Linked DNA regions of Homo sapiens: region 2 is linked to region 1. Evidence: fine-mapped QTL for protein levels in blood plasma. A gene starts in region 1. The other region holds a variant in brackets. All regions are shown on one strand. Distances are from middle to middle. Region 1 holds the start of GPC1 (glypican 1). Region 2 overlaps GPC1 (glypican 1).

What was found. PIP is the chance, under the fine-mapping model, that this variant and not a neighbour inherited with it causes the effect. The UK Biobank Pharma Proteomics Project read protein levels with antibody pairs (Olink). The fine-mapping took linkage between variants from a reference panel, not from the people measured, so its PIPs are less certain.
Region 2: its variant is fine-mapped to the plasma level of the GPC1 protein (UK Biobank, PIP above 0.99). The variant lies in the coding sequence of GPC1. If it changes the protein, the assay may bind it differently, which can mimic a change of level.

Annotation. Positions count from the first base shown.
Region 1 is chr2:240,434,483-240,437,369 of GRCh38, forward strand. It overlaps GPC1 (glypican 1), which reads left to right and starts at 1,181. Exons shown (of 9, transcript NM_002081.3): 1 at 1,181-1,602. The coding sequence starts at 1,437. RefSeq lists enhancers at 244-820, 2,554-2,887 and silencers at 650-1,309, 1,370-1,429.
Region 2 is chr2:240,464,911-240,467,797 of GRCh38, forward strand. It overlaps GPC1 (glypican 1), which reads left to right. Exons shown (of 9, transcript NM_002081.3): 6 at 1-65; 7 at 167-300; 8 at 563-738; 9 at 1,148-2,887. The coding sequence ends at 1,380. Among named protein-coding and RNA genes, the nearest start is that of GPC1-AS1, 9.7 kb to the left of the region's middle. The variant A/G (reference allele first, on the strand shown) is at 1,201.

The DNA of each region.
Region 1 (2,887 bases):
GCCAAGGATACTGACCTCTATGCCTGCCCCCAATTCTGCAGCTCAGGCACCTGGCTTCACCGCCAGGCCTTACCATGTGGAGAACAGGGGGCCGGGGTGGGGGGTCTGGGAGCCAAGGAAGGAGTGAAGCCCTCCAGACACCAACATCGCAGTCCTCGCCCCCTCCCTACAGACCCCATCCAGCCCAACTCCCCATGTGCAGCTAAAGCCACGCGCCCTCCTACCATACAAGGTGCAGGCAGCCCTCCCGCCTTCTTCAAAGAGGCATCTGCTCCGGCTCACTCCACCCTCCTCCCCCAGTGGCCTAACTAGTCGCCGGGTTCCAACCCTATCCCTTCTCCAGAGGTCATCTGGCCCCACCCAGCAGCCCAAACCAGTAGACCGGCCCTGCCCCATCACTTTGGTTTCTCCAGCATCCAAAGAACGTGGAGGGTCACCCCCCCAAAACAGCTGTCAAGGTCCAACAATTAAGCCATCTGTTGCCGCTCCCTGGGACTGGGAGAGGTGAGGTCGAGTTTCTTGGCGAGTTTCCTGCGTGCAGCCCCCACACCACAAAAGCCCCCGGTGCGAGCCGGAGCCCAGCGCGAGACGGCTGGAAGGGCGCGGGGAGGGAGCCGCTGCGGGGTGCAGGCGGGGAGAGGGGCGGCGGCTCGAGGCGCGGCCGGCGGGCGGAGGGTACGGAGGCGCCGGGAGAGCGTTCTCGGGGCGCGCTGCCAGGGTGCAGGAAGCCGGAGCGCGCGGGAGGGAGCGGGGAGCGGGATGCCGATTTCGGCTGGGGGCGGGGAGGCCCCTGATTGGGGCGCGGGAGGCGTGATGTCACGTCCGGCGGGGGAAGCCCTGCCTCGCGCACCCTCCGCCCCCGTCCCCGCCCCCACAGGTGGTGCCACCGCCCTGGGCGCTGGGCGTGGGGGGCCGCCCTCGGGGACCCCGGCCGCGGCCCCGCGCTGCCCGGCTCCGCCGCCTCCCGCCGGGGATCGATAGAGTCGCGCGGCCAGGCGGGCCCTCTGGGTCCCTAAGAGCCAGAGGAGCGCCCAGTGCGCCCCGGCCCGCGCCCCCGCGCCGCGCCCCGCCCCGCCCCGCCCGGTGCTCCCAGTCCCTCCCCCACCCCTGCGCTCCCACCCTGCCCCGCCCCTCTCCTCTCCCGCGGCCGCCTAGGGGCCGGGCCGGCGGCGGGGGAGGCGCCGAGCCGGGACTGCGCTAGCCCGCCGCGCTCTGGGCTGCCCGAGCGAGCGTTCGGACCTCGCACCCCGCGCGCCCCGCGCCGCCGCCGCCGCCGGCTTTTGTTGTCTCCGCCTCCTCGGCCGCCGCCGCCTCTGGACCGCGAGCCGCGCGCGCCGGGACCTTGGCTCTGCCCTTCGCGGGCGGGAACTGCGCAGGACCCGGCCAGGATCCGAGAGAGGCGCGGGCGGGTGGCCGGGGGCGCCGCCGGCCCCGCCATGGAGCTCCGGGCCCGAGGCTGGTGGCTGCTATGTGCGGCCGCAGCGCTGGTCGCCTGCGCCCGCGGGGACCCGGCCAGCAAGAGCCGGAGCTGCGGCGAGGTCCGCCAGATCTACGGAGCCAAGGGCTTCAGCCTGAGCGACGTGCCCCAGGCGGAGATCTCGGGTGAGTGAGGGCGCGGCGCCGGGAACCCGGGCCTGGCCGGGCTTTGGGCTCCGGACCCTGGTCTTCCCGACGCGGCTACTCGCCCCCGGCGCGGGATCCTGCCGCCTGCGCCCCGCCGCCCGGGCCCCGAATGGCTCCCTGCGCTGCGGCTCCTCTGCAACCCCACGGCCCTCGCCTCCAAGCCCCGCGCCGCACTCCCTCGCCAGGGTCTCCTCCGCCCCGCTCGGTCGTCCTCCGCCCCTCCCCGCCCCCCGCACGCCGGCTTCTTCCCTGCGGAGCTGATCTCGCCGGGCTGCGGGCTCGGGGCGCTCCTCCCGGGCCACGGCTGGAGCTGGGCGTCTTCTGCCCGCCGCTCGGCCCAGCGCGCCTGCAGGCCGGGAGTCCCAGCCCCGGGGCCGGCTGTCGGGGCGCTGTGGGGCTCGGCGTGGCCGGGCTTTCGGGGCGCCGCTGACGGTGGCCGCGGACCCCTTCTGCTCTGTACAGACCTCTCTGGGAGGCGTCTCCGGTCCTGCCCGGGGATTCTCGTAGGGTCTCCAGCAAAGGCAGCCTAGGTGGGTTTTATAAGCTGACCCCCTCGGGGGGTAGTGCGGAGGGGTGGGGAGGGAGCTGGGCACTTATCCGCGGGCGGAACGCCGCCGCCTCGTAGAGATTCCTGTCGAAGAACTTGTACGCGCCGGCCCCCGCCTGGCGCTTGGGCAGCCTCGTGCCGCGAGTCCAGCTGCAGGTGGTCGGCGCGTTGGATCCCGCCCAGGGGCCGTGTCATTTCTTTGTAAGAACAGCGGCCCTCTTGGCGCCCCCTAAGCCCTGCAGCCGCCTGCGGCTCTGCCTCTTCCCTCCCTGTGGTCCCGGAGGAGCTTTGGGGACAGAAGTGTACGGGTGGGTGGAACGGTGGGCTCCGTGTGCTAAGGAACTCTTGGAACCCAAGCTTCACCTTTCCACGTGTGGGAACCAACCTCGGTCTGTACCGCGTGCCAGGGACCCAGTGGGCAAGAACAAAACAGACTAGGTTCCTGCTCTGGGGGGCTCCTCTGAAACCAGGGGAGTGGGAGTGCGGGTGGAGGGCTACTCAGATGGGGACTCAGCGCAGAAATGCCCATGGTCCTGGGGATTCTGAGCAAGAAGGATCCGTGCATCTGGGTGAGGGGGGTCTGTGGCCATGCCTTGCCGCGGGGGGCGGAGTGGTGGGAGGAGGCAGTCGGGCTCTGGACCCCTGCCCCTCCAGGAGGAACAGAACCCACAGACAGCCCCTTGCCCTTGGTGGATCTCCCGATGCCCCCAGCCTGAG
Region 2 (2,887 bases), 30 kb after region 1:
AGAAGCGGCGCCGGGGCAAGCTGGCCCCGCGGGAGAGGCCACCTTCAGGCACGCTGGAGAAGCTGGTGAGTGGCCCCTGCGTGTCCACTGGACCAGGCATGAGGGAGGCAGACAGGCAGAGGCGGGCGGGCCCTGGCAGCCCAGTGGCCTGACTGCTGCCCCACAGGTCTCCGAAGCCAAGGCCCAGCTCCGCGACGTCCAGGACTTCTGGATCAGCCTCCCAGGGACACTGTGCAGTGAGAAGATGGCCCTGAGCACTGCCAGTGATGACCGCTGCTGGAACGGGATGGCCAGAGGCCGGTAGGTGCCCACCTGGCTGGCACAGCCCTCCCTCCCATGCCGCCTCCATTGGGCTGTGCCTGGGCCAGGTGCTGTCTGCACGGGGCCACGTCCCTTGCTGGAGGGCTTGAGCCCCACTTCTCTGCGGCCTGTGTGGGCTCTGCTCGGTCCCTGGAAGCTGCTGGGCATCTCAGGCTCAGAGCGTGGGAGAGTGTCCTGCTCAGGTGATGGCCCTTTGCAGGGGCTGGAGCAGTGACCTGGGCTCTGCCTGCCTTTCCCCCAGGTACCTCCCCGAGGTCATGGGTGACGGCCTGGCCAACCAGATCAACAACCCCGAGGTGGAGGTGGACATCACCAAGCCGGACATGACCATCCGGCAGCAGATCATGCAGCTGAAGATCATGACCAACCGGCTGCGCAGCGCCTACAACGGCAACGACGTGGACTTCCAGGACGCCAGTGAGGGCAGGGCCTGGCCGGGCGGCCAAGGGGCCAGGGTTGGTGGGGGTGCCACAGGGGTGTGACTGCCCTCCGGGTTCCCCCACCCGAGGGGCCCTCTGCTCCGGCATCACCACAGTGAGTCTGAGGACGCTGTGCTGCCCAGGCACGATCACCGAGCCCTGCACCTCTGCGGCGCCCTGGAGGCCTGGCCGGGATGTCTGTTGGCTTTGGCTCCAGGGACCAAGGGAGGCAGCCCCAGGGAGTGAGAGTCTCCCAGCCTCAGGGGTCAGCGGGGATCAGGTGCTGCTGGTCCTGGGATTCCACACCGAAAGGATGTTGGGGTCACCTGGCACGGGCCCTTACAGGGTGGTGCTGCACTGGGGTCTCCTGTGGGGACCTGCCTGCCGGAGCCTCCTCTCCTTCCCAGGTGACGACGGCAGCGGCTCGGGCAGCGGTGATGGCTGTCTGGATGACCTCTGC[A/G]GCCGGAAGGTCAGCAGGAAGAGCTCCAGCTCCCGGACGCCCTTGACCCATGCCCTCCCAGGCCTGTCAGAGCAGGAAGGACAGAAGACCTCGGCTGCCAGCTGCCCCCAGCCCCCGACCTTCCTCCTGCCCCTCCTCCTCTTCCTGGCCCTTACAGTAGCCAGGCCCCGGTGGCGGTAACTGCCCCAAGGCCCCAGGGACAGAGGCCAAGGACTGACTTTGCCAAAAATACAACACAGACGATATTTAATTCACCTCAGCCTGGAGAGGCCTGGGGTGGGACAGGGAGGGCCGGCGGCTCTGAGCAGGGGCAGGCGCAGAGGTCCCAGCCCCAGGCCTGGCCTCGCCTGCCTTTCTGCCTTTTAATTTTGTATGAGGTCCTCAGGTCAGCTGGGAGCCAGTGTGCCCAAAAGCCATGTATTTCAGGGACCTCAGGGGCACCTCCGGCTGCCTAGCCCTCCCCCCAGCTCCCTGCACCGCCGCAGAAGCAGCCCCTCGAGGCCTACAGAGGAGGCCTCAAAGCAACCCGCTGGAGCCCACAGCGAGCCTGTGCCTTCCTCCCCGCCTCCTCCCACTGGGACTCCCAGCAGAGCCCACCAGCCAGCCCTGGCCCACCCCCCAGCCTCCAGAGAAGCCCCGCACGGGCTGTCTGGGTGTCCGCCATCCAGGGTCTGGCAGAGCCTCTGAGATGATGCATGATGCCCTCCCCTCAGCGCAGGCTGCAGAGCCCGGCCCCACCTCCCTGCGCCCTTGAGGGGCCCCAGCGTCTGCAGGGTGACGCCTGAGACAGCACCACTGCTGAGGAGTCTGAGGACTGTCCTCCCACAGACCTGCAGTGAGGGGCCCTCCATGCGCAGATGAGGGGCCACTGACCCACCTGCGCTTCTGCTGGAGGAGGGGAAGCTGGGCCCAAAGGCCCAGGGAGGCAGCGTGGGCTCTGCCAATGTGGGCTGCCCCTCGCACACAGGGCTCACAGGGCAGGCCTTGCTGGGGTCCAGGGCTGTTGGAGGACCCCGAGGGCTGAGGAGCAGCCAGGACCCGCCTGCTCCCATCCTCACCCAGATCAGGAACCAGGGCCTCCCTGTTCACGGTGACACAGGTCAGGGCTCAGAGTGACCCTCAGCTGTCACCTGCTCACAGGGATGCTGGTGGCTGGTGAGACCCCGCACTGCAGACGGGAATGCCTAGGTCCCTTCCCGACCCAGCCAGCTGCAGGGCACGGGGACCTGGATAGTTAAGGGCTTTTCCAAACATGCATCCATTTACTGACACTTCCTGTCCTTGTTCATGGAGAGCTGTTCGCTCCTCCCAGATGGCTTCGGAGGGCCGCAGGGCCCACCTTGGACCCTGGTGACCTCCTGTCACTCACTGAGGCCATCAGGGCCCTGCCCCAGGCCTGGACGGGCCCTCCTTCCCTCCTGTGCCCCAGCTGCCAGGCGGCCCTGGGGAGGGGTGGTGTGGTGTTGGGAAGGGGTCCTGCAGGGGGAGGAGGACTTGGAGGGTCTGGGGGCAGCTGTCCTGAACCGACTGACCCTGAGGAGGCCGCTTAGTGCTGCTTTGCTTTTCATCACCGTCCCGCACAGTGGACGGAGGTCCCCGGTTGCTGGTCAGGTCCCCATGGCTTGTTCTCTGGAACCTGACTTTAGATGTTTTGGGATCAGGAGCCCCCAACACAGGCAAGTCCACC